Homo sapiens: one gene and its partner. The protein of the gene in region 2 interacts with the protein of the main gene of each other region in a biochemical or structural test. Each region holds a gene or a part of one and is shown on either strand. Other genes may lie near its edges.

Region 1 (3,500 bases), on a different chromosome or scaffold from region 2:
GAGATACTGATACGAGGTTGAGATCCTTGGGTGAGAGGCCCACACTCCTCCAACCCCCATGTCTGCTTCTGGAAGGTGGTGGCAGAGGAGAGAAGTAGAAGTACTATATGGGAGATGCGGGAGATTCTTGCCTTCTCTGTCGGTCTCTTTGGGCAATTATCAAGCTGTCATCTGACCAGATACTACCATAGCTTCTTCGGGGGCAAATCCGTAGGGAATCCTGACATCCGACGGGGAGCCACTTTGGCAATGGCAAACGGTGTCTCCTCTCCACAGAGCTTGTGATGTCAGAAATTACCCATAACTGGGGCAGGTTTTGTCTTCCCAAAGATTGTCTGCCCAGCTAGACCTGAGAGACAGGGAGACAAACACAGAATGAGGGGGTGGGTCTTGTGGGGGTGGGGAACGATGGAAACTCACAGAGCCAGATCTCCCCGAGTTTGAGTTGCACTGGCTGCCTGGGTGTGTCCTCCTGAGGTAAGTGTCCCTGCGAAGTGCAAGTGTGGGCAGACAGATCTCAGGTGGGTGGGGAGGGACTGAGTCACCAAGGAGGTGATTTGCAAAACTCAGGTCCCAGAAACTTTCAGGTCTTCAGCTTTTAAAAGTAAAGGTTAATTGCAAAACTCCGGGGTTGAGGGAAGAGATTATTCACATAGACCAGTCATTTTGAGCATCTGCTGTTGTGGCATTGCAAGTCTCCTTCGCAGTGCCTGAAAGTTCATTTGTTTTTGAGAGCTCTTACGCTTTTTCTGTTTGCATCTTTGCACAAGTTCTATGTTTCTGAGAACCCTCACCACTATTAGTAATAATAGCAAACACTTACAGAGTGTTGACCATGTACCAGCGCCATTCTAATTGTTTCCTATATACTGCCTTGTTTAATCCAAACACTGACTTCATGAAGGTGGTGCTGTTATTATCTGTCTTTTACATATGAGGAAACTGAGGCACAGAGAATTTAAGTAGCTTGCCCAAGGCCATGCAGCTGATAAGTGATGGCGCTGGGATTCAAACTCACATCTGGCTACAGAGTTCATGCTCTTTGTCACTATGTTAGAGTGCTTCTCTTGGTATATTAAGATATCGAGGCACCCTAGAAATCCAGACGATTGTACCTGGAAGTACTGTAGTTGTTTTCAAAAACTTCATTTGGGAATCTAGTTGTGGGTGAGGTCATAACATCCACTGAGCTTTTAAACATGATGTCAGAGGAAGGGGTTAGAATTGCAAAAATGAAGGAGGAGGAAGTTGTAATGGAAACTTCTGCCAATGCATATTCTGAGTTGACTCATTCATTCTGATCTCTGAATAGAAGCTCTACTCTCTTCCATGTGATGGAAAGTTGAGGATAGGGTAGGGCTGAGAGGGATGTGAATTGAGTTGTTTGTTCATTAGGATAGGATAGGGCTGAAAGGGATGTGAATTGAGTTGTTTGTTCATTATCACTTCATTATTTGTCACCTGGATGAAAGGTAAAGGTGGCTGATTAGTGTTTCTCCATCAGCTAGAACTTTGACTGGGAAATGAGCCAATCAAATAGCAGCAAAATATTTGCCCTCACCTTACAGGCCCTTGGTTCCAGGGTCTTCTCTCCACCGGCTAGAATGGATGAGGGAGGGAGAGAAACTCTGAGAAAAGAGGCTGTCAGGAGTAGGGCTGTACATATCCAGGGCACAAGGAATTTGGCAAAAGCTGGAAGTATACTATAGCCCTTCTCTCCAGCCCTAGCCTAAACCAGATGACCAGGCTTCTATTTGGCCCAGCATGTGACCATCCCATCAGGGAGCAAGAGAGTTTCCTCTGGGTACCCCTCACTGAGAAAAAAGCCACCCAGGAAGGGAGGAGGCAAGGCCCCCTGGGAACATCTGGCTCAGTCCACAGGAAGGGATGCAGGCCTTTTCCTGGGAATGAGGACTCATCCCATATTCCAGCCCCCTTCCCCCAACTTTTTTTTTTTTCAATTTTAGTGCATCTCTTTACACTTAACAGGTCTGCAGTGACTTCTAGGAGGATCCACACACCAATCGTGGAACTAGGCAGCATCTTTTTCCACTTCCTTTCCAAGATAGTAGCACGATAACAGTAAAGCCCCTTTGCAAGTGTTCACTATTATGCACATTAAGATGCCAGGGAGAGGGCTGGGAAAGGTGGCTCACACCTGTAATCCCAGCACTTTGGGAGGCCGAGGCAGGCGGATGACCTGAGGTCGGGAGTTCGAGACCAGCCTGACCAACATGGAGAAACCCCGTCTCTACTAAAAATACAAAAAAATTAGCCGGGCATGGTGGTGCATGCCTGTAATCTCAGCTACTTGGGAGGCTGAGGCAGGAGAATCACTTGAACCCGGGAGGCAGAGGTTGCAGTGAGCCAAGATCACGCCATTGCACTCCAGCCTGGGCAACAAGAGCGAAACTCGGTCTCAAAAAAAAAAAAGGTGCCAGGGAGAAATGAACAATTCCATGCAGCCAACACCTGGTCTCCTGCGTTTGGCTTAGAAGGGCATTTCTGCCCAAGCCCCCAGCTCTAGTCTTTGCACACTTTAAATGAGTAGCTACTACATGCCAATCACAGATGTTGCCTCTGCTGAGTATCCAGTCAAAAAACCAGAATCTAACAGAGCTAACTAAGCACCATCTTGCAGGAAACCAGCTGACGTCAGCTCCGCAGCCACCAGTGAGTTACTGGGCCCACATCTGCCTGCAAGAGGGGGAGGGGAATTCAGGTAACCCACAAGAGGGGATAAAAGTTCGGGGAAGAAATCTCCTGTCAAGGAGTTTGTTTTTGCAGTGGATCCTCTGCAGTGAGACTAGTTGTCTTTACAATATCATTAGAGGTCAGGTACATTCCTGTAGACTCCCTTAAGTGACTTGCTTTCTCCTATTGTTCCCCCTGAAAATTCATAAAAACCTCACAAACACATCTCCATTTAAAAAGAGAAAGTTTAAAGGATGCCATGTAATGGTTATCTCTTTTCTTTTGCCAGTGAGCATAAAAGCTCCTTAGGGAAAAGCCCAAACCCTCTATACATTTTCATATTCATGATAGCCCTGAGCGGTCAGCACAGTTCCCCAATTATAGTGGGTGCTCAATAAACACTTGGATGGCTTACTGAATTAATAATGTTTCTAGACTTGGCTAGCAAAGCCATCTCCGTTACTTATCTTTTGTGATTTTTATAGGTTCTGTCTAATTCTTTTTCTTCATTTTTTTTCTTTCTGGTCTATACAAATCTTCTTTCATTTTTCTCTATTGCTACTTGTAGCGATCCTCAACCCGCCTCCTCCCTTGAAATTTCTGTTCTCTGCACTCTCTTCAGTCTAAAGAGATCTTTCTTGAGGTTTGAAATGTTACACAAGGCAGGGGAAGTTTAGAGCTAATTGTATTTTGTCCAGTAGAACGGGGATCTGGATTTCCTATAGGTCTGGCTGCCTCTTTGTCTACACCTTTACTTCCAAATCTGGCCTCATGTATAAAAAGACCCCAAACCTTAAAATCATGTT
Region 2 (3,500 bases):
CCAGGCACAGTGGCTCATGCCTGTAATCCCAGCACTTTGGGAGGCTGAGGTGGGTGAATCACTTGAGGTCAGGAGTTCAAGATCAACTGCCATGGCCAACATGGTGAAACCCCACTCTACTAAAAACACGAAAATTAGCCAAGCATGGTGGTGGGTGCCCATAATCCCAGCTACTAGGGAGGCTGACACAGGAGAATTGCTTGAACCTGGAAGGCGGAGGTTGCAGTGAGCTGAGATCGTGCCACTGCACTCCAACCTGAGTAACAGACTCCATCTCAAAAAAAAAAAAAAAGAAAAAAATTATTTTTTTTTGTTACTCCTCTGATTGGTGAAAAAATGGTGTAGCATATCATTGGTGTTTTAATTACTATTTATTTAATTACAGATGAGGCTGAGCGATTTTTTCTATAATTTTAAAACTCTATGTCTCTTTCTGCCACTACCTGTACATAATTTTTGCTCATATTTTGATAGATGTGGACTTTTCAAAGTTATTCATAAAAGTCCATGGAATATCAAGAGTTATTAGCTTTTTGTCTCTCAAATGTCGTAGATGTTTTCCAAATATATTATTTGCTTTTGTGTAATTTTTACTTAGTCAGACCTATCAGTATTTCCTAGAATGGCACTGGGTTTTATGTTTTGCTTAGAACAGGTTTCTCTATTCCTAACTTATTTTTTTTAATCCCATGATTTTCTTTTATCATTTTGTAAAAAGTTATTCCCTACATTTCATATTTGATTCATCTTATATTTCTTTTAGGATGAGAAATCAGGTAGAGACTGATTCTTATTTTGCATGGACCCATCAATTGTCCTGAAACCATTTATTGAATAATTCTTCCTTTCCACTGAATGTCCAACTTCATTGGAGTCAATTTCTGTAACCTGTCTTCTGATTAATGAAACTAAACAATTTTTAAAACAATATGCCCCTCTCTGATTTATTTTATAGATTCAGTAGAAACTACATGGCTTGGGTAATGCAGTTATTATTAAAATTATAGAATTAGATCAATATGAATCCCAAGACATAATATATTATCATCCCTTTTTTGTATAGTTTTTCAAAGTACTTACTCTTTTGATCTTTATAACTGCATATTCATTTAATAGATTATGACACTAAAGGTCCAAAAGTAATATCTTTGCTTGGTTTTCTCAGCTAGTGAGTCCAACTCAAACTTTCTGATTCCAAGTCTAGTGCTCATTCCACTATACCTCAAGTAATATCAAATCAATAATTTAATAATAAAAAGATTATAATTTATCAAATATGTTTATTGTAAAATATGTAATCTCATTTTATAGACATAAACACCTCTTAAAATCCTTAGAAGAATGAGGTAGGATGTATACAGATGTGGAAAGTATATACATTTGTATCCTTTTATAGTTGGTAAATCTACCCAGAGGTGTGTTTCAGGAAACAGAACTGACACATTAAACAAAGATTCTCTGTACTGACCTCTGAAATACAACCACCTCTAACACATTCAATGGTAAGAACTTAGCAGTGTTTAAAAACCCTGTATACATACACACACACACGCACCCCCCACACACACACAGACTTTATATATATGTAATTTACCAAGTCTAGGCTACAAGAGGAAACTGGCAAAAATTCACTAATTGAAATGGAGCTTGGCCAAGACATCCATATCTAATCCCCCTTTTCTGATTCCAAATCAGGGAGAGTACATGCTTTGTGTTTTCTGGTAAAATACAGACCTATGTAACAATCAGCATATTTTCTCAGACCAGAGCAAGTAACTCCCAACAATGAGTGTTTGTCAGTCCTAACTGGTTTCTCTACGTGGGTGGTGAAAAAATACCTTACTACAGTCATTAATTCTTTCTTTCAAAAGAACCATGTGTCTTGAGAAGTTCTGCTCCATCACAGGGCAATATCCCATTTTAAATACAGTGTTTACCGATGTTTGTCCATGAATGACGTCAACAAAAATGTTTAAATCTCACCAGGAAAGGAGGGCTTAGTTGCCAGACTTTGGGAGACAGAGTTAGTTGATCTTTGCGCTCTCAAAGGCTCTGTTACTCAATTAAGTGACCAATCATTAACTCCAAAGTATTTAAGCCTAATAATACAACAAAAGAGAGAACAATGGGTAGTATCTTTAACATTAATCATGGTCACCTTTGGTTTAGCTGTTTAGGTCCTTTCCTAGCAGAATTTACAAGTGTATAGATACAGGTATTCTGGAATATCAAAGGCATCTCCCTCCAGTTTGCAAACACAGGGAAAAAGAAGAAACTTACATCTGTAAACCTATGTAAATCTAGGGGGATTCCTTTCAAACCTCGTTTTTTTGAAAGCAGGAAATACAATTTAAAACCAACTCTGTTTTTATCTACCAAAAGAATCAAAACTTTGAATTCTGACATAAATCCTAAATGATTGTCTTGAATCTCATCCCGCTTCCTACCTAATCTTCTCACAAGAAGATTAAGGACTGTGGACTTGGTGCTGGAGGAAGTAATTGCTCAATCACATTGGAATCCATTGGAACCCTTTACAATATTACTGCGGGCAGACAATACAATTCTAACATATTTCTTTCTTTACTCAGAGCTCAGAACAAGAAGTCAGACTCTTGGAGACCTTCTCCCTGATGTACTGCTCTTAACATTTCCAAGTTACAAACTGGGAACCGCTTCTATCTCAGAACACTAATTGTTGCTTCCATTGGTACCTTCCTATTTTTATATTACACTCACAACATCCTATTTTAGGACTTTATGTGAATATTTTCAGGATGGGTTTGGCGAAATTGTCAAGAAGTGCTTAAAACAATTAGGTCACAGCTTTCAGCAGACAAAAAGAAAAAGACGTGGCTGTTAGCTACAGAATCTGAGGTGATGGAAAAGATCTTTAAAATCCAGTTCTTCCAATATGCAGCAAAATGGGAGGACTTAAAATGCAGCTCTAAGAAGCACCGTCTCGTCTGCACCAAGCTTCTCCAGGTTTCCAGCTCAGTCACTCCCTAAATAGGTGCTGAGCTTCCAGTCCCCGCCAGGTCCCCGCTAAGGTTCCTCATTGAGGCACAGGAACCTCAGTTACACTCGCAGCCCTTCCATGTTTGCCCCCATGAAATTCTATTAGTCTTGTCGAATGGCAGTATTTGCCATTCCAGGCGAACTCTTTATGACAGTCTGGAACGAAATTAATCTGTTAATTGACTAAGAATGGGCTTTAGAGTGACCTGAATGTATTTAAAAAGTCAACAAATGGAATACGGTATAAAGTCTCATTTTTCTGACAAAAAGTTTGCTTGGAGTAAATTTTAACCTCTCCCCTGCCTCAAAACAAAAGCACGATGCCCCTCCTACCACTCCCAAGAAGCAAGCAAAAATAAAATAAAATAAAATAAAACTTAAATAGCCTTTTAATAAGAGTGTTCAGCGCTGTCTGGATGGAACTCGGGTCAGCTCCAGAAGCAGCCGGCCCCGAATCCTGGGGGCGAGGCCACTCGGCTCTC

Evidence for each region. Proteins that work in one complex are often made in the same cells at the same time.
Region 1: the proteins of VCAN (region 2) and CD44 form a complex in vitro, tested with the Homo sapiens proteins (one study listed by BioGRID).

What each region holds. Positions count from the first base shown.
Region 1 is NC_000011.10:35,145,671-35,149,170, forward strand, and holds part of CD44 (CD44 antigen isoform 1 precursor), read left to right. Parts: intron 1-3,500. UniProt on the Homo sapiens protein: Cell-surface receptor that plays a role in cell-cell interactions, cell adhesion and migration, helping them to sense and respond to changes in the tissue microenvironment.
Region 2 is NC_000005.10:83,474,744-83,478,243, reverse strand, and holds part of VCAN (versican core protein isoform 1 precursor), read right to left. Parts: intron 1-3,500. UniProt on the Homo sapiens protein: May play a role in intercellular signaling and in connecting cells with the extracellular matrix. May take part in the regulation of cell motility, growth and differentiation. Binds hyaluronic acid.